7 linked regions of the Homo sapiens genome follow. The protein of the gene in region 1 purifies or fractionates together with the protein of each later gene. This does not show direct contact. Each region holds a gene or a part of one and is shown in the gene's direction. Other genes may lie near its edges.

Evidence for each region.
Region 2: the proteins of SLC46A3 (region 1) and RAB14 purify together in Homo sapiens (affinity purification with mass spectrometry; one large-scale study listed by BioGRID and IntAct). This does not show direct contact.
Region 3: the proteins of SLC46A3 (region 1) and ZC3H14 purify together in Homo sapiens (affinity purification with mass spectrometry; one large-scale study listed by BioGRID and IntAct). This does not show direct contact.
Region 4: the proteins of SLC46A3 (region 1) and MYO9B purify together in Homo sapiens (affinity purification with mass spectrometry; one large-scale study listed by BioGRID and IntAct). This does not show direct contact.
Region 5: the proteins of SLC46A3 (region 1) and RAB10 purify together in Homo sapiens (affinity purification with mass spectrometry; one large-scale study listed by BioGRID and IntAct). This does not show direct contact.
Region 6: the proteins of SLC46A3 (region 1) and RAB21 purify together in Homo sapiens (affinity purification with mass spectrometry; one large-scale study listed by BioGRID and IntAct). This does not show direct contact.
Region 7: the proteins of SLC46A3 (region 1) and ABCA3 purify together in Homo sapiens (affinity purification with mass spectrometry; one large-scale study listed by BioGRID and IntAct). This does not show direct contact.

What each region holds. Positions count from the first base shown.
Region 1 is NC_000013.11:28,705,471-28,708,970, reverse strand, and holds part of SLC46A3 (lysosomal proton-coupled steroid conjugate and bile acid symporter SLC46A3 isoform a precursor), read left to right. Parts: intron 1-1,338; exon of another isoform or gene 1,339-2,374; intron 2,375-3,500. UniProt on the Homo sapiens protein: Lysosomal proton-coupled steroid conjugate and bile acid transporter. Preferentially recognizes lipophilic steroid conjugates or bile acis as endogenous substrates and seems to mediate escape from lysosomes to the cytoplasm.
Region 2 is NC_000009.12:121,191,870-121,195,369, reverse strand, and holds part of RAB14 (ras-related protein Rab-14), read left to right. Parts: intron 1-1,950; 5' UTR 1,951-1,957; coding exon 1,958-2,009; intron 2,010-3,145; coding exon 3,146-3,199; intron 3,200-3,500.
Region 3 is NC_000014.9:88,569,537-88,573,036, forward strand, and holds part of ZC3H14 (zinc finger CCCH domain-containing protein 14), read left to right. Parts: intron 1-1,547; coding exon 1,548-1,588; intron 1,589-2,493; coding exon 2,494-2,689; intron 2,690-3,041; coding exon 3,042-3,471; intron 3,472-3,500. UniProt on the Homo sapiens protein: RNA-binding protein involved in the biogenesis of circular RNAs (circRNAs), which are produced by back-splicing circularization of pre-mRNAs.
Region 4 is NC_000019.10:17,208,277-17,211,776, forward strand, and holds part of MYO9B (unconventional myosin-IXb), read left to right. Parts: intron 1-1,309; coding exon 1,310-1,433; intron 1,434-2,056; coding exon 2,057-2,104; intron 2,105-2,438; coding exon 2,439-2,572; intron 2,573-3,370; coding exon 3,371-3,498; coding exon of another isoform or gene 3,499-3,500. UniProt on the Homo sapiens protein: Myosins are actin-based motor molecules with ATPase activity. Unconventional myosins serve in intracellular movements. Binds actin with high affinity both in the absence and presence of ATP and its mechanochemical activity is inhibited by calcium ions.
Region 5 is NC_000002.12:26,107,084-26,110,583, forward strand, and holds part of RAB10 (ras-related protein Rab-10), read left to right. Parts: intron 1-2,684; coding exon 2,685-2,823; intron 2,824-3,500. UniProt on the Homo sapiens protein: The small GTPases Rab are key regulators of intracellular membrane trafficking, from the formation of transport vesicles to their fusion with membranes.
Region 6 is NC_000012.12:71,778,863-71,782,362, forward strand, and holds part of RAB21 (ras-related protein Rab-21), read left to right. Parts: intron 1-3,168; coding exon 3,169-3,223; intron 3,224-3,500. UniProt on the Homo sapiens protein: The small GTPases Rab are key regulators of intracellular membrane trafficking, from the formation of transport vesicles to their fusion with membranes.
Region 7 is NC_000016.10:2,334,229-2,337,728, reverse strand, and holds part of ABCA3 (phospholipid-transporting ATPase ABCA3), read left to right. Parts: intron 1-3,500. UniProt on the Homo sapiens protein: Catalyzes the ATP-dependent transport of phospholipids such as phosphatidylcholine and phosphoglycerol from the cytoplasm into the lumen side of lamellar bodies, in turn participates in the lamellar bodies biogenesis and homeostasis of pulmonary surfactant.

The sequences.
Region 1 (3,500 bases):
GCTTTGAAAACCAATAACAAATGGAAAAATTTATATAAACTATGTAAAAATCTATCTGCTTCTTTGGACTATGCAATAGTTTCTTAGATATGACACCAAAAGCACAAGAACAAAGGAAAAATTGATAGATTAGACTTCATCCAAAAACTTCATTCAAAGTTTGTCCTTTGAAAAATTTTTATGTTTCAAAGGACAACATCAAGAAAGTGAGGCCAGGCGCAGTGGCTCACATGTGCAATCCCAGCACTTTGGGAGGCCAAAGCGGGTGGATGACCCGAGGTTAGGAGTTTGAGACCAGCCTGACCAACATGGTGAAACCCCGTCTCTACTAAAAATACAAAAAAAAAAAAAAAAAAGAAAAGAAAAAGAAAGAAAGTGAAATGACAACCGACAACCCACAGAATGGGAGAAGATATTTGCAAATTATATTTGTCTGAGCAGGAACTCGTATCCAGCATATTTAAGAACTCTTAAAATTCAACAACAAAAAGACAACTCAATTTAAAAATGGGCAAAGGATTTGAATAGAAGATATACAAGTGACCAATATGCGCATGAAAATGCTGGATATCATTAGCCATCAGGGAAATGCAAAGCAAAACCACAGAGTGGGCTGGGGTGGCCAAAATAAAATAGGCCATAGCAAGTGTTGATGAGGATGTGGAGAAATTGGAGCCCTCATACACTGCGAGTGGGAACATAAAATGGTGCAGCAGCTGTACAAAGCAGTTTGGCAGTTCCTCAGAAAGTTAGTTGCCTTATGACTCAGCAATCCCTCCCCTACTTACATACCATGAGAAGTGAAAGCATATGTCCACATAAAATCTTGTTCATGGCAGCATTATTCATAATAGCCAAAAAGTGAAACCTATGCAAATGTTCATGAACTGACAAATGGGTAAACAAAATGTGGTTTATCCATCCAGCAAACTGCTCTTCTGCAATAAAAAGAAATATCGTTCTGTTACATGCCATAACATGGATGAACTATGAAATGATTATGCCAAATTTAAGAAGCTAGTCACAAAAGGCCACATATTGTCATTTAAATATGATTCTGTTTACGTGAAATGTGCAGAATAGGCAAATCCATAGAGACAGAAATTTGATTAGGGCTTGACTGGGGCTGGGGAAGGGGAATGACTACTTATGGGTATACAGTTTCTTTTCGGGGTGATGAAAATGTTCCACAGATAGTGGTGATGGTTGCACAAATCTGCAACATACTAAGAACCACTGAATTGCAGACTTTAAAAGGGTGAGGTTTGTGGGATGTTAATTATATCCCAATAAAGCTATTGGGAAAAAAAATTTACCTGCTTTGACTTAGAGCTAAAATAGAGCTGTCAAGAGGTATAGTTTATTTTTGTTTATATTTGGTTTAGTTTATAAAGGCTTTTTAAAATTTTTTTTATTATACTTTAAGTTTTAGGGTACATGTGCACAACGTGCAGGTTTGTTACATATGTATACATGTGCCATGTTGGTGTGCCGCACCCATTAACTCGTCATTTAGCATTAGGTATATCTCCTAATGCTATCCCTCCCCCCTCCTCCCTCCCCCCACTCCACGACAGGCCCCGGTGTGTGATGTTCCCCTTCCTGTGTCCAAGTGTTCTCATTGTTCAATTCCCACCTGTGAGTGAGAACATGTGGTGTTTGGTTTTTTGCTCTTGCGATGGTTTGCTGAGAATGATGGTTTCCAGCTTCATCCATGTCCCTACGAAGGACATGAACTCATCCTTTTGTATGGCTGCATAGTATTCCATGGTGTATATGTGCCACATTTTCTCAATCCAGTCTATCATTGATGGACATTTGGGTTGGTTCCAAGTCTTTGCTATTGTGAACAGTGCCACAATAAACATACGTGTGCATGTGCCTTTATAGCAGCATGTTTTATAATCCTTTGGGTATATACCCAGTAATGGGATTGCTGGGTCAAATGGTATTTCTAGTTCTAGATCCTTGAGGAATCACCACACTGTCTTCCACAATGGTTGAACTAGTTTACAGTCCCACCAACAGTGTAAAAGTGTTCCTATTTCTCCACATCCTCTCTAGCACCTGTTGTTTCCTAACTTTTTAATGATCGCCATTCTAACTGGTGTGAGATGGTATCTCATTGTGGTTTTGATTTGCATTTCTCTGATGGCCAGTGATGATGAGCATTTTTTCATGTGTCTGTTGGCTGCATAAATGTCTTCTTTTGAGAAGTGTCTGTTCATATCCTTATAAAGGCTTTTAAAAAGTCATCTCCGCCAGGTGCAGTGGCTCACATCTGTAATCCCAGCACTTTGGGAGGCCGAGGTGGGAGGATCACTTGAGACCAGGAGTTCAAAAGCAGTGTGGGCAACAGAGGGAGGCTCTATCTCTACGAAAAATAAACATAAAAATAAAAAAGTCATATCATACTGTTAAATATAGTAATATTTTAAAATGTTTACATTTTGGCATTTCTTATTTTGAATTACGGTAACTGTGAATTGTGACTTCATTATTCTAGGATACTTACTTTGTTCTTAACTGCAAACTAAACAATCTTTTGGATGATGTCAACATTTCTATAACTAAATGTATTCGCATCCTTCATTATTATTTAAATTGGCCATTTTGTGAAAATATTAGGCACTTTAAATAATCAGAGGAGTGGGGAAATACTGCCGAAGTTTTCAGTTGGCTCTCATTATTTCTATTATCTTAAATAAGAAAGGTAAGAAAGTGGAATTCTGGTAATTATTTTGCAATCTCTGCGCTCTGCACCACTGTGAACTCATAGCTGAAGCTGCCTTGGACTATTTTACCTGGGCATCACCCATATACTCCTTGTTATTATAAATTGGGAGACAGTAAAACAGACTTGATTTTTGAGGTCTATTGCATTAAAAAAAAACAGAATTTAGAAGATGAACTCAGTTGTACTTATCCTTTAATCCTGTTTTATCTCTGGCAACTATTAAACAAGTCGAACTGCTCAGAGAAGTTGGGCAATAAGCTAAAGCTACTTCATAATAGTATGGTTCCATCAGAACAGATGGTGCAGTGTCTGACCTATTTCCCATCAAGAATAGATTAAAACTCTTACATAATAGAACTAGTACTGTGCAGTCTGTTTTCCATAGCACTATTCCTGGCTGCAGAAAGAGATCAGAAATAAAAGAAAATAATGTAGTTAGACAAGTAGAAGAACATCCTTCCAATTAAACTGACTTAATGTATTATCATAAATCATGGAGGCAGTAAGTCTGCATGCTACTTGATGACTGGTAAATGGGATCCTGAATTAAGCTTTGATTCATTCATTTGACAAATATTTATTAAATGTCTGCCATGCACCCGGACAGCTGAGCCCTAGGGATACAGCTGTGAGCAAGGCAGATGTACAAGGCAGATCGACAAAGCTTTCATTTTAGTCAAAAGAAGACACATAAGTGAGCACACGATATTTTGCAGAGATAGACGTATGTTTTATGAATGTTTGTCCTATCATTCAATGAATA
Region 2 (3,500 bases), on another chromosome or scaffold:
AATTAGGAAAATCAAGGGAGAAGAGCACAGAAGAGACAGTAATTTGAAGGTGACTAAGTGATTACTTTTACCCAGGTTTGAATGGGGAAAGAATTTAGAAGAATTAAAAATTGATTAGAAGAGTCGGAAGAATTCAAGTTAAGAAGTTAATAATCTTTAAATATTTTTAATGTAAGAGATTACTTTTCCCCCTTGTGTTTGGCATCTGGTTCAGAGATCAGGTAAATAATCCAGACCAGTTTTAGTCTCAGGACCAAGTTCATTCTTAAAAGTTTTGAGTTCCTAGTGCCTGGAAAAGGGAATAAAGTTGTTGTGATGTTCAGAATCAGTTAATCTAACTAGAAAAACTCCCTTTCCTGAAAGAACTGGTTAAGGGAGTTTTCTGTGATGCAGGAGACTGATTATAAATGTGTTAGAACATGCCAAACTGGAATGGGTAACAAGGCTTCTACTTTCACTAAATGTAATACAGATAGCTAAGTGAGAAGACTGTAGTGTGTGGAAGTGATTAATACTTTACTGTAATTAACAACTTCCTCTTCCCTTATAATAATACACTTGTTTTAAATATATATTCTTTCTACGGGTTCAATGTTGTTATATAGAACTTTTGCTTGAAATATGGTATATAGTAAGGTGATAATTTCAGTAAATAAATTTCTCCAGTCATATTAAATGTCTGGCTTGTGTAATGTGACATTGACAGAAACACTAAAAGCCAGGCTTAAAAATACTGTAAGTCAGATTTTTTTAAATGGGTGAAATCTTTATATGTATAAATAATTTTTGTCTTAAGCTGAAAGCTGGTTTGAGAATAAACTTTATTGAAAGTTATTACCAGTTTTACAGTTCAGCCCCTTGTTTCTCTCTAGGACCTAGCACGTGTCTTACACATTCAGATAATTCATTTGAATAAATTGGAAAGTTTTTTGTTTTCTTTTTAAGTAGAAGAGAAATTAGAATTCTTTAGGTTAAGTCTATTTGAGGGTAAGAAATGGGCTGTGATCTTTTGAAATATCTTCTAATACACAAGCTTTCAAATTTTGCAACCATAAGTACAATTTTATGACATTATTTCTTTCAGTCCCTAGAATAGTGTATGGGAAGCACTTACTATGTTGTTAATCTGGCTGGGCACAGTGGCTCATGCCTGTAATCCTAGCACTTTGGGAGACTGAGATGGGAGGGACGCTTAAGGCCAGGAGTTCAAGACCCAAGACCAGCCTGGTCTTCAAAAAATGTGTGTGTGTGTGTGTGTGTGTGTGTGTGTGTGTGAGTGATAATCTGCAAGTCCTGTATTAGGTTGAGCTATATGAAAATGCCAATAAACTTTGACTTGAAAAATCTATAGGAAGAACAGTTTCATGTGATTCAGTCTAGTTCCAACATTGATTTGGAAATCATACGATTGCTCTTTGCGCTGCTAACTGTTGATTTAAAGTAGAGTAAAAACGTTGTTTTGTGTTTATAAATTAAGTGGTTCCTTTATATACCATTCTGTTTAATATCAGAGTTCTGAACAAGTAGATCATTAGTAACTTACTTGATCAGTTAACAGGGAAGGGGACTTTAAGGGGAGAAGAGACTATAGTGATGTTTAACTTAAATTTATAAAGATTTTTTTGTTTGACAATTTTCAGATTAATACTTATTGGATTTTTTTTAAATTATACTTTTAAGTTCTAGTGGATATTAAGTGAAATATTGGAGTTGTGGTATAAATGGTTTCTTATATTTCTGTGGATAGCACATGAGAATGTGTAAGCATCATTCATCCAAGAGAATTTGTGTATTTGATCAGTTTGTGAAATGCAGTTTTATTTTGACTTACTGTAACCAACATTTGTTTGTATTCAGTGTCCTTTTCTACCTTTAAAGGATATCAGTCATCCGTTTGAATTACTTGTATATGCTTTCCTTCTGAAGTAACAGAGATTTCTTTGTTTTTAGTGCCACCATGGCAACTGCACCATACAACTACTCTTACATCTTTAAATATATTATTATTGGTAAGTTTATTTAACTTACACTCTTGTTCCCAAAAGAAGGTTAACATACAAAATATTTATATGTTAATACTTAAACAGTACCACTTCAGGACTGAGTGATTTTCTTACTGTAAAACTAAAACTCCTTTTATAAGATTTATTTTTGCATTAGCAATGCAGCTTTTGCATTGTGGCCATGGATATTTCTGTGGTACAGTGCTGGTGGGTACCTTGTGAAGTGATGTTCATTGTTCTTGAGGGCTGCTTGAAAGCTTTTTGATGCTAGGAAGTATCAGTGTTTCAAGGAGTGCAGAAACATTCCTAAAATACTGTGAAAGCTCTCAGATTCCCCTGGGTTTCTGTTATAAGGAAAAATTGGTAGAGAATATTGTTTGATTCCAAATCAATTGTGTAATATATATAAAATATAGTATTTTTCTTAATTGGTGTTTTTTTCCTTAAGTTTCAAGAAGGTTTTGCTCAAATTAAGTCTTAATGCTATTTATCCAAACATAAAACTACATTTGAAAGTACACGTTTTTCAATGAATTGTTCACATTAGAACAGTTTGCTTTCATGTTGAACTTAATGTGTCCTTTCTAATGTTTCCTTCATCAAGGGTTAACATTGCTATAGTACAGTCAGAGATGACATCTTTTCTCCTGGGGTTTTCATGTAATGCAAATTCTTTTCTTTCATAGAATAATACAAGAAGTATAAGACAGGGACCTAGTGAATCAAGCTTCCAGAACTCAGTTTGTTATTTCTGCTTGTTACATGCTACCCCATTTGTCAGTTTTTGAAATTTGTTGCTTTTATGCATGAGTTTAAGGAAAAAAACAAAAGAAAACAAAAACATAAAATTTTGAAACAGCTCAAAGTAAAAAAAATTCCATTAAAAAAATAAGCACTTCCCAGCTGGTGGCTATTTATTAACAGTAATAATTTACAGCCAAATTCTGTCACTGCTAAAGATTGGGAATAATATTCCATTTGTGTCTCACAGTGAAAACTTTTGAATCATTATAAAGTAGGAAAATAAAAATTTGTTAAGTGTCCCAGAAACTTGTGATATGTTATATGGTAAGGAATATAGCGATCATTGCATAAAATTGAGAAATGTAATTGCCACCTGAAACTTCTTTTTTTTTAAACAGGGGACATGGGAGTAGGAAAATCTTGCTTGCTTCATCAATTTACAGAAAAAAAATGTAAGTTCAATACATGAGGTAAACATTAATAGTTTTCTTTATCGCCATGTTTCTACTTTTTAGAAAGTGTCATTTTCAGTATACTTCATGCATTTAAATATAACCTTTCCCTATATTTGTACTTTTTTTAAATGGGTACAGATAAAATGAAATATGCCAGCATATTTTAGGGTTGATTTTTATACACATTATATAATCTGATTTGCTTGTTTTGATTTCTTGATGTTAAAATAATTTTTAAAAATACATAAAATAATGTCAAACTTAATCTTTTTATTCTCTGACTTTCTGTTACAGGAAT
Region 3 (3,500 bases), on another chromosome or scaffold:
TGAGGATGAGGGCTGGAGGATAATGATGTAGCTGAGAATAGACAGACGAAATACTTTATTAGGCTTCTCAGGCTAGGAACTACCAGTTACCGTGAAAGGTGATGATGTAGCAGAAGTGAGCAAGTGGCCTGCCGAATTTGAGTGCAAGAGGAGGCACTGAGTGGGGAGATGAGCCTGGTTAAGTTCTTGCCTTTATACCAAAGGTCGTCTTCAAGGTGTTTTTGCCCAAGTAGGCAACTGTATGCTTATCAACCGTCTTGAAATTCTGCACAGAATTCTCTGGGTTTATACATTGCACAAATTTGAAGAACATTGTATAGTGGTCATCAGTTGTTATGATACACTGCTGCCTCACTGTGGGTGACCCAACCCATTTGTTACAATTTGTCCCCAGAGGTTATTCCCTCCCAGCCCCCCACAAAAAAAGACTGTGGGTCTTTTGACTGGGAAAATTACCATTATTGTGAGTACTATTTTTTTTTCTAAAGCGACCGAGTAGATCCTTTTCTCCGATAACTTGATAGAATACTTAGATTTTTAAAACAGACTACCAAATGAATTTAAAACCAAATTAATTCAACATTCTCATCTGGCCATAAATTGAGTTCTTTAACATGTAGTGAAGCAAAGGGTGATGTCCCCATTTTGGCACTTTGCTTTCTTAAGTTAGTGTTCATTAACACCAGCCCCAAACAGACTATTGTGATTATTTGGAGCCTTGAAGTAATTGTGTCCGTGGGGACAGTAGCATGTGACTAGGGTTCTCATTGAAACATGAGGTTTCTGGCATATTTTGAGAGGTACTGGGAAGGGATGTAAGGCAAAGTACCTCATTTATAACTACCAAAACAGGTTATGTTACAAGCAAGATTACAGCCTTACAGCATCAGTTTTGAAAGTAATAGAGTGAAATGATATAGCATAGTTTGAGATTATAACTTGTTTTAACCTCTCAGAATTAAGTTGTCCAAGACACCATCTAGTTTAAGCAGTTAATATAAGCTGCTTAAATGGTGGTAATAATAAGCAATATTACATGTTTATGATACTTGTTTTACTGTAAGCTACAGTAAATCTTTAGTACTTACAAACAGGGTGACATATTTTGTAGACTAAGACTGGTCAGATGATATTCTTTCCCATATTTTTGCAGAGGCTAGATGTTGAAAACAGTGAAGAAAAAAATACAATTTTTTATTGACTTCTGTAGGATTTATACAAAGCCCTTTTTTAAAAATGTGAAGTTTGAAAGTTCATACCATTTATTCACTAAATACAGTTTATCAGTATTTATCTCAGCTAGGTGCGGTGGCTCACGCCCGTAATCTCAACACTTTGGGAGGCTGAGGCAGGTGGTTCTCTCAAGTCCAGGACTTCAAGACCAGCCTGGACAACACAGTGAAACCCCATCTCTATTTAAAAATAATAAAAATATAAAAAAATTTAAAAAATTATCTCTGAATATAATGTCATAAATTTAGAGTGACAGTTGAAATGAAATCTTTCTTAACAGAAGGTTTATTTTTGTTTTTTGTTTTTTTCCTCAGGCTTCATGGTGTATTAGATAAACTTCGCTCTGTTACAACTGGTAAGATTCATAACTTTTTTTTTTAATTTCTGCTTGCTATGGCATATGATTTGTTTCTTTCTAAAGTCATAGTGCTTTGGGAAAAACCCATCAATTTCAAAACGGTTCATTTGAACTTTTTTAGAAAGCACATACTTTTATGAACTTAAGAGCAGTAAATTTAACATAATTCAAAGATAATTTAAGTGTGGGAGAGGGAGCAGTGCACTTTATCCGAAGGAAATAATTACATATATGTGCAAAGATTTAGCCTCAAGGATATTTCAGTATTTTATAATTGAAAACAATTTAAAAGTTCAGTCATAATAAACGAAATTGTTGTATTACCATGTGTGGAATAATATTTAACTATTAAAAATAATGTTGTGGAAGAATAACAGAATATACACGCATAAGATACATGTTTTAAAAAATGTGTATATATGCTCTTCCCCCGAAAAATCACCTTTGAGATAATTGGTGATTTTTATTATATTTTTAAAATTTTCTACAATAAACATACTGCTTTTGAATTGGTGATGAGGAAGGAAACGACTTAAAGTAATAAAAATAGATGGCCGGGCACGGTGGCTCACGCCTGTAATCCCAGCATTTTGGGAGGCCAAGGTGGGCGGATCATGGGCTCAGGAGATGGAGACCATCTTGGCCAACCAACATGGTGAATCTCCGTCTCTACTAAAAATACAAAAATTAGCCAGGCATCGTGGCACATGCCTGTAATCCCAGCTACTTGGGAGGCCGGGGCAGGAGAATCGCTTGAACCAGGGATTTGGAGGTTGCAGGGAGCCGAGAACGCGCCACTGCCCTCCAGCCTGGCGACAGAGCGAGACTCCATCTCAAAAATAAATAAATAAATAAAAATAAGAAATAAAAATAGATTAAAAGGACTGTATTTTTCTTTTCAGAACCCTCTAGTCTGAAGTCTTCTGATACCAACATCTTTGATAGTAACGTGCCTTCAAACAAGAGCAATTTCAGTCGGGGAGATGAGAGGAGGCATGAAGCTGCAGTGCCACCACTTGCCATTCCTAGCGCGAGACCTGAAAAAAGAGATTCCAGAGTTTCTACAAGTTCGCAGGAGTCAAAAACCACAAATGTCAGGTAAGAGTCTGGTGTAGACCTGCTGGGGGCAGATGGCTCTGTGTATGTGACATTTATATTAGTTTTTATATCTTTCAGTTTGCTGTTCTCAGCAATTTTTAGAAACAATGAAGTGATCGTGAGTAGTTTTTTGAATAAAATAATGGATAAGATCTAAGTATGATTATCTTTTATCACAAATTTAGTAAATCAAAGTTGAAAGAAAGTGCAATTTCAAAGCAGTTTTGAATGGAATATGTAAAGGGAGTATCCTCAGTTTTTTCATTGAAATTTTTCAAGTAAACATTCTTTAAAGATTTGGTGATAATTGCCCTAATTTGGCTGTAATACATTTTGTTGTTCTTTTAAATAGACAGACTTACGATGATGGAGCTGCAACCCGACTAATGTCAACAGTGAAACCTTTGAGGGAGCCAGCACCCTCTGAAGATGTGATTGATATTAAGCCAGAACCAGATGATCTCATTGACGAAGACCTCAACTTTGTGCAGGAGAATCCCTTATCTCAGAAAAAACCTACAGTGACACTTACATATGGTTCTTCTCGCCCTTCTATTGAAATTTATCGACCACCTGCAAGTAGAAATGCAGATAGTGGTGTTCATTTAAACAGGTTGCAATTTCAACAGCAGCAGAATAGTATTCATGCTGCCAAGCAGCTTGATATGCAGAGTAGTTGGGTATATGAAACAGGACGTTTGTGTGAACCAGAGGTGCTTAACAGCTTAGAAGAAACGTATAGTCCGTTCTTTAGAAACAACTCGGAGAAAATGAGTATGGAGGTTTGTATGTACTTTTAAATTCTGGCTTA
Region 4 (3,500 bases), on another chromosome or scaffold:
TGCAGTGAGCTGAGATCACGCCACTGCACTCCAGCCTGGGCGACAGAGCGAGACTCCGTCTCAAAAAAAAAAAAAAAATCCAGATGGCAGTGGCCCCAGCAGTTGTGTCTTTTTGAATGTGCTTTAATGAGCACACCCCATTGTACTAAAACAGAACTTTTTTTTTTCTTTTTGAGACGGAGTCTCACTCTGTCTCCCAGGCTGGAGTGCAGTGGCACGATCTCGGCTCACTGCAAGCTCCGCCTCCCGGGTTCACGCCATTCTCCTGACTCAGCCTCCCAAGTAGCTGGGACTACAGGCGTCCACCACCACGCCCGGCTAATTTTTTGTATTTTTAGTAGAGACGAGGTTTCACTATGTTAGCCAGGATGTTCTCGATCTCCTGACCTTGTGATCCGCCGTGAGCCACCGCTTCCAGCCTAAAACAGAACTTTTAACAAAGGCTGGATGATAGGTGAATGGTAGTGGATTCCTCTCTCTGCTACAAAGCGTCCTGTCACGGGAGGATAAGGAACAAGCAGCAGCCCCTGCAGGTCGCACCACAGAGCTCACCCAACCTGAGTCCCTCTGGTACTGACCACTCCAGACTGAGTCCCTCTGGTACTGACCACTCCGGACTGAGTCCCTCTGGTACTGGCCACTCCGGGCTGAGTCCCTCTGGTACTGACCACTCAGGGCTGAGTCCCTCTGGCACTGAACACTCCGGGCTGAGTCCCTCTGGTACTGACCACTCCAAGCTGAGTCCCTCTGGTTCTGACCACTCCAAGCTGAGTCCCTCTGGTTCTGACCACTCCAAGCTGGGTCCCTCTGATACTGACCACTCCAGGCTGAGTTCCTCCCAATAATGACCACTCCAAGCTGAGTCCCTCTGACACTGACCACTCCGAGCTGAGACCCTCTGATACTGACAACACCAGGCTGGCCTTGACCACCAAGTGGGCATACTGTGGGTCAGCCCATGTCTGGAGCCCCTGGGGCCATCTGCCTATTGCCCCTGGGACAAACTGCCCAGCAGCTTGTACTTCTCTGCGAGGCAGGATAATTCCCACCCTACTGGTGACTAAGGGGTTCAGTTCACTCTGACCCTCCTTCAAACAAGGAGGCGTGCAGAGACAGGAGACAGGCTCAAAGAGGTAGAGTGAGCTGCCGAAGGTCACACTGCATGGGAGCTGGCACAGCCGTGTCCCAGGCACTGCTTGGTCTCTGAGCCTCAACCACTGCCCCCCAGGCACCAGCTAGCATCTCCCTGGACCTCAGACGTCCCCGGGGCGGTAACTGAGTCACTTCCTCCCGTGGGCCTTCTCTGTAGGTGCGTGGAGATGCTGATCAAGGAGCAGATGAGGAAATACAAAGTGAAGATGGAGGAGATCAGCCAACTGGAGGCTGCAGAGAGTATCGCCTTCCGCAGGCTTTCGCTCCTGCGACAAAATGCTGTGAGTACCGGTGATCGTGGGGGCGGGACCTCTTTGGTGGGGCGGAGCCTGGTGCTGGGCAGGGCCTTGGGCGTGGCTTTGTTGCTGGGAAGGCTGGTGAGTGGGGTCTTGGTGGGCGGGGCCTTGGGTGGGCAGGACCTCCCATGCCGAGGATGGGACCGGGTAGTGGGTGTGGTCTCGGGTAGCAGGGCGGGGCCTCCCTTCCCAGTTCCCCGCCCACTCCTACCACACCCTTGGCCACAACCAGCCTGGCTGGGGCCACCAGGCCCTGCAGGTAGGGGCAGACTTACTGCCTTGAACGAAAGACGATGGTCCTCGCTCAGCCTCACTCCAATTATGTTCCTCTAGGTGGGGCAGGTAGGGGGACCAGCTTCCTGCTTGCTGGTGGTTCAGGTCATGCGTCCAGCCTTGTCCCTTCTGACCTGGGCCCTACCCACGGGGAAATGTTCCCATAGCAGAAGAATCAGCCCCACAGTGCAGGGGTGTGTTAGTGGGGAACGGGCTCTGGGCTCCTGTGGGAACCAGGGACCCCCTATCTTGGTACCGGTCATTGGATGTATCCCCAGCTCATGCCTGTGTCTGTCTTGGCCCGTGTGGTCACCCTGTGTTCATCTCTCTCCCAGCCATGGCCTCTCAAACTGGGGTTTTCGTCTCCCTATGAGGGGGTCCTGGTATGTACGCGTTCGGTGGGCCCGCGGTGCATGTCTCCCGGTGCAGTGCATGCTGGGGTTCCCTGGGGCCCTGGGCCCCTCGTAGGATAGACAGAGCCTGTCCTAACCTTCCGGAAGTGCATGCTGGGGAGGCCCCTTGCCTGCTGACCTTCTGTGCTCAGGACGACTAATCGGCCACATGACCACCACTCTGTCCCATGGGATTCCTAGAGAAGTCTCACTAAGAGCCCAGCACACTCACATCACAACTAACCTCCTGGGATCTGCTCACACCTCCGGCAGTAACCTCGCCCACTCAGAGATGTCAGTGGGACCCCTTGCTTCTTTGTTTCAGAACAAGAGCCCCAAGACCCGGGACATCCAGGAGGAGGAGCTGGAGGTGCTGCTGGAGGAGGAGGCAGCCGGCGGCGATGAGGACCGGGAAAAGGAGATTCTCATTGAACGGATCCAGTCCATCAAGGAGGAGAAGCAAGTGGCTCAGTCCCCTCCCTCAGTCCTTCATGTTTAGGGCAAGCTGGAGTGCAGGTTCCATCCCTGGTGGTCCGCTTGACCTCGCCAGGTTTGGTCCTGTCATCCCTAACACTGGGCAAACAACACTTTTTTTTTTTTTTTTTTTTTTTTTGAGACGGCGTCTCGCTCTGTCGCCCAGCTGGAGTGCAGTGGTGCTATCTCGGCTCACTGCAACCTCCATCTCCCGGGTTCAAGCGATTCTCTGCCTCAGCCTCCGAGTAGCTGGGATTACAGGTGCCCACCACCATGCCCTGCTAATTTTGTGTTTTTAATAGAGACAGGGTTTCACCACATTGGCCAGGCTGGTCTTGAACTCCTGACCTCAAGTGATCCACCCACCTTGGCCTCCCAAAGTGTTGGGATTACAGGCGTGAGCCACCGCACTCGGCCTTTATTTCTGAGACAGGGTCTTTCTCTGTCACCCAGGCTGGATTGCAGTGGTGCGATCACGGTTCACTGCAGCCACAATCCCCTAGGCTCACGGGGTCCTCCCACCTCAGCCTCCCCAGTAGCCGGAACCACAGGTGGTGCACACCACCACGCCTGGCTAATTTTTTTTACTTTTTGCAGAACAGGGTCCGCCTATGTTGCCCAGGCTGGGTTCAAACTCCTGGGCTCAAGCAATCCTCCTGCTTGGGGTGGGGGGAGGTTGGGGACACAGAGTTACATCTAGGAGCAGGACAGCCTGCTCTGTTCCACACTGGCCCAGCACTTCCGGTGGGGTGGCCTTGGACACCACTACCCTTTTTCCTCCAGGGAGGACATCACCTACCGGCTGCCGGAGCTGGACCCAAGGGGCTCGGACGAGGAGAACCTGGACTCGGAGACGTCGGCCAGCACCGAGAGCCTGCTGGAGGAGCGGGCCGGGCGGGGGGCCTCGGAAGGT
Region 5 (3,500 bases), on another chromosome or scaffold:
AAAAATATAAAAATTAGCTGCATGTGGTGGCACGTGCCTGTAATCTCAGCTATTCCAGAGGCTGAGGCAGGAGAATCTCTTGAACCTGGGAGGCGGAGGTTGCAGTGAGCCAAGATCGTGCCACTACACTCCAGCCTGGGCAACAGAGCGACACCCTGTTTCAAAAAAAAAAAAAAAAAAAAGACTAGGTGAAGAATTCTTAGACATAACACTAAACACATGATCTGTAAAAGAAAAAAAAATCAGTAAATTAATTAGACTTTCACAAAATTAAAAGCTTCCTCTCTACAAAATACCCTGTCAAGGGAATGAAAAGACTAGCTACAGACTTGGAGAAAATATTTACAAGCCAGTGTATCTGACAAAGGACTTCTGTATAAAAAGAACTTTCAAAAGTCAGCAGTAAAAAGACAAAAAAACTGACAATCCAGGCCAGCCACGGTGGCTCACGCCTGTAATCCCAGCACTTTGGGAGGCTGAGGCGGGCTGATCACCTGAGGTCAGGAGTTTGAGACGAGCCTGGCCAACATGGTGAAACCCCATTTCTACTAAAAATACAACCGTTGGCTGGGCGTGGTGGTGGGCGCCTGTGATCCCAGCTACTTGGGAGGCTGAGGCAGGAGAATCACTTGAACCCAGGAGGCAGAGGTTGCAGTGAGCCGAGACTGTGCCATTGCACTCCAGCCTGGGCGGCAAGATCGAAACTCTATCTCAAAAAAAAAACCCCAAAAACAAAAAACTAACAATCCAATTAGAAAATGGGCAAAAAAAAAAACCAGACATTTCACCAAAGAGGACATGTGGATGGCAAATAAACACATGAAAAAATGTTCACCATCTTAGCCACAGGGAAATACAGATTAATGTGATGATGAAATATTACTATGTGCCCTCTTAGAACTACAGAAATAAAAAAGTGACAGCATCAAATGCTGGTGAGGATGCAGAGAAACTGGATCTTTTATATGTTGCTAGTGCAAATGTCAAGTGATAGAGCCACTCTGGAAAAAGTTGGCCAGTTTCTTACCGTTATACACTTACCATATTACCCATAAATAACATTCCTGGGCATTTATTTCAAAGAAATGAAAAATTATGTCCACATAGAAACCTGTAAATGAATATTCTTCGAACTTTGTTATAGCCAAAAACTGGAAACAACCCTGAATGTCCTTCCATGGGTGAATAATTAAGCAAATTGTGATACAGACATACCATAGAATGCTACCCAGCAATGAAATGGGACAGACCAGGATTATGTGCAAAACTTGAGAGGACTTCAAGAGCATTATGGTGAAAGAAGTGTTAAATGCCGATTTCAAAAGGTAGCATACTACATGATTCCACTTACGTAACATTCTGGAAATGAAAAAAATATAAACATAGAAAACAGATTATTGATCAGAGTTTAGGGACTATGGGGAGTAAAGAGGTGATGTAATAGTTCTTTGTCTTGTGGTAGTTACACAAATCTGTACATGTAATAAATTGTAGAGAACTATATATACACACATACACAAATAAGTGCATGTAAAAAAAAAAAACCCTGAAATCTTAATAAGGTCTGTAGATTGTATCCAATGTCCATTTTCTGGTTTTGCTATTATGCTGCAGTAATATAAGATGTTATCATTAGGAAAAGCTGGGTGAAAGGTACCCAGGACCTCTCTGCACAGTTTTGTAACTTCCTGTAAGGCTGTAATTATTTCAAAATAAAAGTTTTAAAAATATTAACTCGAAAGAGGAGCAGGGATAGTTGGAGAGATACAGGGTTGAGATTGGGGTCTTTTGCTTTATATTTATTTATTTATTTATTTATTTATTTATTTATTTATTTATTTATTTTGAGACGGAGTCTCGCTCTGTCACCCAAGCTGGAGTGTAGTGGCACCATCTTGGCTCACTGCAACCTGTGCCTCCTGTGTTCAAGCAGTTCTCTTACCTCAGCCTCCCGAGCAGGTGGGATTACAGGCACGTGCCACCATGCCGGGCTAATTTTTGTATTTTTAGTAGAGATGGGGTTTCACCATGTTGGCCAAGTGTCTTGAACTCCTGACCTTAAGTGATCTACACGCCTCAGCCTCCCGAAGGGCTGGGATTACAAGTGTGAGCCACTGCGCCCGACCTTATTTTTGCTTTTTTAAAAAAGATACTAAAACATGTTTGTAAGCTGATGAGATGATCCATAAAAGAGCAAAATGATGATACAAATGAGAGGGCATAGTTACAGGAGCAAAATACATCTTACACCTTTGGCTTTAAGCATTAAATAATGGAAAATACTACTATTTACATTTCTGTCTTATTATTTATAAGTGAGGTTATCTTTACAACTTTTGGTTAATGATTCTAAATGTAAATATGACTGTACTATGGTATAGTTCTCTAATGTTCTAAAAATCCTACCTGCTTTTGTGTTACATTATGGAACTAAATTATTAAATAAAATGAAATTTTAAGAGTTTCTATGGTGTTTGCTAGTGCTTATTCAATAAACTTGAGTTTTATGTGTCACTTCCTACTGTTTTCCCTTTCAGATTTTCATCCAGTATGGGTAGGTTATTAATTTCCTTCAACTAAAAAGTTTTTATATATACTTAGGAAAAACTATTCTTGTTTTGTCCTTTATGTGAAATGTAGTAATATCAAAATGCTTAATAGAAATTATTGGCTGTTTATTTCAGGGATACAGCAGGCCAGGAGCGATTTCACACCATCACAACCTCCTACTACAGAGGCGCAATGGGTATCATGCTAGTATATGACATCACCAATGGTAAAAGTTTTGAAAACATCAGCAAATGGCTTAGAAACATAGATGAGGTAAGACCTAGAACTTGTATAAACCCTTCATGAACACACATTTGTGTGCTTGGTTAGGAAGAATAAATATTCCAACTGATCTTCAGGATATAATGTACTGTTGAAGTCATTATTATTGAAGTATTTCTATTTTCTAAAAGTTAATGTTGGCCGGGCATGGTGGCTCATGCCTGTAATCCCAGCACTTTGGGAGGCTGAGGTGGGAGGATCACCTGAGGTCAGGAGCTAAAGACCAGCCTGGCCAACATGGTGAAACCCCATCACTACTAAAAATTATAAAAATCAGCTGGGTGTGGTGATGTGCACCTGTCGTCCCAGCTACTCAAGAGTCCAAGGCAGGAGAATCTCTTGAACCTGGGAGGTAGAGGTTGCAATGAGCCAAGATTGCGCCACTGCACTCCAGCCTGGGCAACAGAGCAAGACTCCGTCTCCAAAAAAAAAAAAAAAAAAGTTAATGTTGTTATTTGCTAATTTTTTCTTAAGTTTTTGGACAGTCTATCTAGAGCCCCATTCAAGACAATTAGTAAATTACTCCAAAACTCTGTATAGCCATCTTACAAGATGACCCCAAATAGAAGCTACCAGTGATTTTACAATGATTTTCTGGAAATGAATTTTTTCTTAATAAATTTTTATTGAATGAATGAAATGTCCGGTAGTAATTTTTTAAAACTTTA
Region 6 (3,500 bases), on another chromosome or scaffold:
CAAGGCGTGGTGGCTCACCCCTGTAATCCCAGCACTTTGGGAGGCTGAAGCAGGCGGATCATTTGAGGTCAGGAGTAAGTTTGTATTACCTGTCATGGACTTTAATTGTCTTACAACAATATTGACTTTCCATTTGATCATTCACTGTGATGAATGTCATTAATATTAATAACTGTTCCTTATTGAGCATATAGTATATGCTAGGCCTTTTACATATATCTTATTTTCACATCAACCCTGCAAGGTTTGTTAGCGACACATGCGTACAGTGAGACTAACAGAGGTTAACTAATTTGTCCAAAATATTACAGTTATGGCCAGGCGTGGTGACTCTGGCCTTTAATCCGAGCATTTAGGGAGACCAAGGTGGGCAGACTGCTTGAGTCCAGGAGTTTGAGACCAGCCTAGCAACATGGCAAAACCCCATCTCTACAAAAAAATACAAAAATTAGCCAGATGCGGTGGTGTGTGCCTGTAGTCCCACTCGGGGCTGAGGCAGGAGAATCGCTTGAGCCCGGGAGGTGGAGGCTGCAGAGAGCCGTGTTCACGCCACTGCATTCCAACCTGAGTGACAGAGCAAGACCCTGTCTCAAAAAAAGGTAAAACAAAAAAAAAATTACAGTTATGGAGTAAGCAAGGACTTAAAAACAAGTTTTATCACATTTAAAAGCTTTCTGAAAGCTTCTTTCCACTGTGCCCCACAACCATTCAGTCTAAGCATAATATGATTCTAGTTCTATATCATTAGGCCATTTGCCCTTAGCAGTGGACATGCCCCTTCTATGTTCTTAATTCAAATATGTATTTTTAAGGAAGATCTGCTTAACTTAGAGGGTAGCTTTTTCCCTCCCTTTCCAATAGTGTCAGCCTATTTGTTTATGTTTTTAATTCTTTATAGTACTATACTTTTAAGTAGGTGCTTGCTTTGGTTATTGTCCTTGTTTTCAGGTGTTTTAAGCCTATCAGAAAGTTCCGTATGTAGCTGCACAGTAGTATTGAAGCAGATATGAGTCTCAAAGCCTTACTCCTTAGCTGTCTTGCTTTTGAAAAAATATAGAAACTAAAAGGGTTTTTGAGCTTTGGAAAGAGGTCAGTCACTAGCCAGTCAGGTTTCTGCAATGTATTCTGTGCTGTCAATCCATTGTGAACACTGATTATTCAAAGAAATAATAGTTATTTAGATTTAAAATATTTTAAGTTTAAAATAATAGGTTATTAAGATAGCTATTTATTAATGGCCTGATTTATTAAAATTAGTCATTTAAAATATTATCAAATAATAAAGCAGTGTCTGAATTATTTCTCCTAAATGTTCATTTGAGGCAGTAAGGTGATTGCCTGCTTTTCCTCTCTTCACTCTTTTTATAGGTATTGATGATATTGATGGAATTTGGAACATGAGCCATTAAATACCTAGAAAAAAATTCCATAGGGTTTTAGGTAATTGAAGCAAAATTAATATTGCTACTTTTAGTAGGAGACTATCTTATTTTGCCTTTGTGAGGCAGAATCTTTTTCCTGTTTGTTGGAGCCACTGGCCACCAGGTGGTGCTTTTTGCATTCTTTACAGAATAACACGACGGTTTTTCCTCTGGTTACTGTCAGACATTGTCATATTTAGCTAATTAAAATTTCCAATGACAAATATAATGTAGGAAGTTAGAACTAATATGAAACTTCTTGCTGTGGTAGATAGCTGTTCAAAGAAGGAAGAGTTTGTTACTGAATTTGTTGGTATCCACTGAGCTTTAGTGTTGTCTGCTTCCCTCTCTCTGATTCTTAGGCTATGGTGGCAGATAGTTTCTTGCAGTTGCCAGCAACTAGGTTCTCAGATTATTCGAGGTCCTCAGTATATAGAACCTTTGGACTTGTCCACCTCAGTGCTAAACATTTTATCTTTTATTGGGTGCTTATTTCAATGCCTTATCTGAAATTTATCTGAAATTGTCTCCTAGAATCTATATGGTTCCAAGAAAAAAAGTAACCTTATTTATAAGATTTCTCTTTTCTCCCTAAAAGCCATAGTAGAAGAATAAAAATGTTTGTTTGAAGTGTCCTTCCATAGGGTATTTTTCCTTATCGTTATCTACTGTTTTTATTACCTTTAGCACTCTGGGTGTCCAGCCAACTCATCTTAAGTTCAAGGAATCAGTATTTTGCAGTTTCTTCATTTTTGTTCTGATGGCTTTTTTTAAAAGTATAATCCCAGCTTGGTTCTGTTGTTTAAGGAGAGCTAAACTTATAATTTAAATCTGCATGATATACATATATTAAGTTTTAATAACTCACTAAAATTGTTTTTTAAACAAAGAATACAGTTTTTCCGGCCGGGCGCGGTGGCTCAAGCCTGTAATCCTAGCACTTTGGGAGGCCGAGGCAGGCGGATCACGAGGTCAGGAGTTCGAGACCATCCTGGCTAACACAGTGAAACCCCATCTCTACTAAAAATACAAAAAATTAGCCAGGCGTGGTGGCAGGCACCTGTAGTCCCAGCTACTCAGGAGGCTGAGGCAGGAGAATGGCGTGAACCCGGGAGGCGGAGCTTGCAGTGAGCCGAGATGGCGCCACTGCACTCCAGCCTGGGTGACAGAGCGAGACTCCGTCAAAAAAAAAAAAAAAGAGAATACAGTTTTTCCCCTTATGATTGTGGAGTACTTAAAAATCTGTACACTTTAATTTTTACTTTAACTGGTTTATATCATCCAGGAAACCAAAATACTTGTAGGATCCAAGAGGCTAGATTAATATATTTTAGTAAACACTAAGATAGCCATACTTATTGACCGGCTCTAAGTTAATGGGAACTGTAGAAAATTTTGCTCTTACTTTTGATCATTTACACTTGCCTAAGAATCATAGGTTTATCTCTAGGTCTCTGGTATCCCCCAAAATCAAAAAAGAGTGCCTGTCTCTTTGGAAAAGTTGTTTTCTTTGTCAGAGGCTGCAGATTCAGGAAAGGTATGAATTGAGTCATTTGAAGGAGGATGAGGCATGATCAACCCTCAGATCACAAGGCTTAACTTTATAATTTCAAGACATTAGAAGTCTGGTGGGGATTTGCATTATTTTTGCTGGTAATTAAAATGGCAATTTTATATTTAGAATTGGCTTAATTTTGTTATGAAAATAAATCAGTATAAAGATAAATATTTACTTTTTTCAAAATAGGTAATAAAATAGACTTGGAAAAGGAGAGACATGTTTCCATTCAAGAAGCAGAGTCGTAAGTACTGTGACCCTCCCATTCCCCATCACTCCCTAGTAGAAATCTTCCTCTTTATACGTTTTGCTTTACCATTTAGGTATTACTCAAATCTCTTAGCATGGATTGAGGTGTTGGATTCAGTGAAGCATGTTTACATGGTAATTTCTGGGCTTGTGGCAATAAAGCCCTTACTTCCCTTTTTGACTTCAGTGAAAAATACGAGTGATATAAAACAAAACTATCATGATCAAATAGGCAGTAAGCCAGAAAAACTTTTGAAGTATTTGAGTCCCAA
Region 7 (3,500 bases), on another chromosome or scaffold:
TACCTCATCCCCACAAGGGCCACTGAGGTTATAAATTGGCCTTGGCCAGTGCAAGTGATTCACATCTGTAATCTTGGCACTTTGGGAGGCCAAGGCGGGAGGATCACTTGAGGCCACAAGTTGGAAGAACAGCCTGGGCAACATGGCAAGATCCCATCTCTAAAAAAAAAAAAAAAAAAATCAAACAATTAGCCGGGCATGGTGGTGCACACCCATGGTCCCAGCTATTTGGGAGACTGAGGTGGGAGGATCACTTGAGCCAGGAGGTCAAGGCTACAGTGAGCCATGATCACACCACTATCTATACTCCAGCCTAGGCAAAAGAGTGAGACCCTGCATGAAAAAAAAAAAAAGGCCTCAGACTTTTTTTTTCATGTGTACTGTTATGTGTAAAAGAATGAATGTAAACATGCAGCCCAATATATATTATGTGTTATAAATTACAATTACTGTCCTGATGTATTATGGACATAGAAATATATACAAATTTGGATCTTTTAAAGGGACGAAGGCCAGACAGACATGGTGGCTCACACCTGTATACCCAGCACTTTGGGAGGCTGAGATGAGACAATCCCTTAAGGCCAAGAGTTTGAGAACAGTCTGGGCAACATAGTGAGACCCTGTCTCTACTAAAAAAAAAAAAAAAATAGCCAGGTATGGTGGCGTGCACCTGAAGTCCCAGCTACTGTGGAGGCTGAGGAGGGAGGATCGCTTGAGCCTGGGAATTCAAGAATGCAGTGAGCTATAATGATGCCATTGCACTGCAGCCTGGGAAACAGAGCAAGACCCTGTCTCTAACAGAGAAAAAAAAAAAAGGATGAGAGGTGAAATAAACATGATTAAATTTATCCAACATATGAATGCTACAAAAACTATTGTATAAACATGCTTTTTAAAGATGAAAGCCATGTGTCCACATCCCATTTATAAACTCTCATTGAATCCTAAGTCCCAGCATTTAAGATCAATTGTAAGTTCTGTTTATTGGCCAGACGAGGTGGCTCACGCCTGTAATCCTAGCACTTTGGGAGGCCGAGGTGGGTGGATTGCTTGAGGTCAGGAGTTCTAGACCAGCCTGGTCAACATGGTGAAACCCCGTCTCTACAAAAAAAAAAAAAAAAAAAAAAATTAGCTGGGCGTGGTGGCGGGCACCTGTAATTCCAGCTACTCAGGAGGCGGAGGCAGGAGAATCACTTGAACCTGGGAGGCAGAGGTTGCAGTGAGCCGAGATTGCACCTTTGCACTCCAGCCTGGGCAACAAGAGTGAAACTCTGTCTCAAAAAAAAAAAAAAAAGTTCTGTATATTTCAGGCCCTAGTTATTAACAGCATTTACACATTAACATGATACAGAGAAAGGCACAGACCCTGTGCTTACGAGGCAGGGTACTTGTTTTTCAATTTCATTTACCCATCATCTGAGGGCCCTTGATGAATTTGGGCTGGGTATGTTCAGGGGCTATCAGGGTAGGTGGAGATTCTGGTGTTGAAGATGTTTTGGTGTGCGGGTGTAAATGTTCATATAGACAGTACGCTTGTAGCATCATTGGGAACGCAGTCACGTAATTGTGGAAACCTCTTCAAACGTCTGTTTTCACAAATGCTCTATTCTTGGTACAGATTCTTTTTGAAAAGCTGTAACTCTCATATACTGTCACTTTTTCTTTGAAGGGACAGATTACGTTGTGTCTATTTAAAAGAAAAAAGGTAGATGACACACTGCTGCAGTCATTTGTCATTAAAAACGAAAAAATGTCTCCGGATTTGGAACTTTTCACAAAAGAAAATCTGTACCTTCTCCTTAAATTCTCTGACTCTTTGAAATACTAAGCCATGAAATGACCAGTAAACCTCCAAGTCACACAAAAGATACTCATGGTCATTTTCCACATCACTGCGAAGCATTGTAAAGCTTTCGCTATTTAAGGGTCTTGAGTTTTTGTGGTTTGTTTGTTTGTTTTAATTGACCACAACTGGAAAGCTCTGAAACTTGTAAACTCCAACACGCCTAGGATGCTTAAAGTAGACTTGTGGTGAGGGCCCACCATCACTCCCCACATCACAGGGTGCCTCCTCCTCAGTCAGGATGCCACGGCTGCTGACATACAAGCCAGCGTGAACACCAGGGTCTGTCCAAGTATTAAATGTCAGTAAAGCTGGCAGGGTGTGGTATCGCATGCCAGTGGTCCCAGCACTTTGGGAGGCTGAGGCAAGAGGATCATTTGAGCCCAGGAGTTTGAGACCAGCCTGGGCAACATAGTGAGACTCGTCTCTACAAAAAAAAGCCAGGTGTGGTGGTACATGCCTGTAGTCCCAGCTACTTAGGAGGCTGAGGCAGGAGGATCACACCACTGCATTCCAGCCGGGATAACTGTGTGTGACTGAGATCCTGTCCCTACAGGAAACAAACAAACAAACAAACAAATCAGTGAAGCCATTTTTTTCACATTTTTAAAGAAAAATACTTACAAGTAGATTTTTTCATCACTTTTTCACTGCTGCAGGTTGTCTAGCCCACCCCATTTGGAGACCACTGGGAAGGGGTGAGGACCATACTCTATAAATGTGCCTGCTTTTTTTATATATTAATAATATTTAGGGCCGGGCACAGTGGCTTACACCTGTAATCCCAGCACTTTGGGAGGCAGAGGCAGGCAGATCACTTGAGGTCAGGAGTTCGAGACCAGCCTGGCCAACATGGTGAAACCCCGTCTCTACTGAAAATACAAAAATTAGCTGGGCGTGGTGGCGAGTGCCTGTAATCCCAGCCACTCAGGTCGCTGAGGCAGGAGAATCGCTTGAACTCAGGAGGTGGATGTAGCCATGAGCCAAGATCACGCCATTGCACTCCAGCCTGGGCAACAAGAGTGAAACTCCGTCTCAAAAAAAAAAAAAAAGAACTAATATTTAAGTCTGGCACGGTGGCTCACACCTGTGATCCTAGCACTTCAGGAGGCTGAGGCAGGTGGATCACCTGAGTTCAGGAGTTCAAGACCAGCCTGGCCAACATAGCAAAACTCCATCTCTACTAAAAATACAAAAAATTAGCTGGGTGTGGTGGCGGGCATCTGTACTCCTCAGCTACTTGGGAGGCTGAGGCAGGAGAATCACTTACTTGAACCTGGGGGCCGGAGGTTGCATTGAGCCAAGATCGGGCTGCACTCCAGCCTGAGTGATAGAGCGAGATGCCGTCTCAAAAAAAAAAAAAAAAATTACTGGTGTTTGGGCATTTCATCCACAGGATCCATTGAATTAGACATTTTCAAATATTTACTGTGTACCCGTCTCTCAAAAAAGATAATGTCCTAGATAAAGGATTAAACAAAACCAGTCACCCTCACCCAGCATCACTGCCCATTGGGACACACCCCGAGCTCCCTTCTTGGTGCAACATCCAGCGCCTTGATGACATGGGCCCAGGGTCTGCGCCTTTCCTGGCTCATTCTCTGCACTGCCACTCGGAATGACTCGCTGCTCCCCATACACAGTCTGTCTCCAG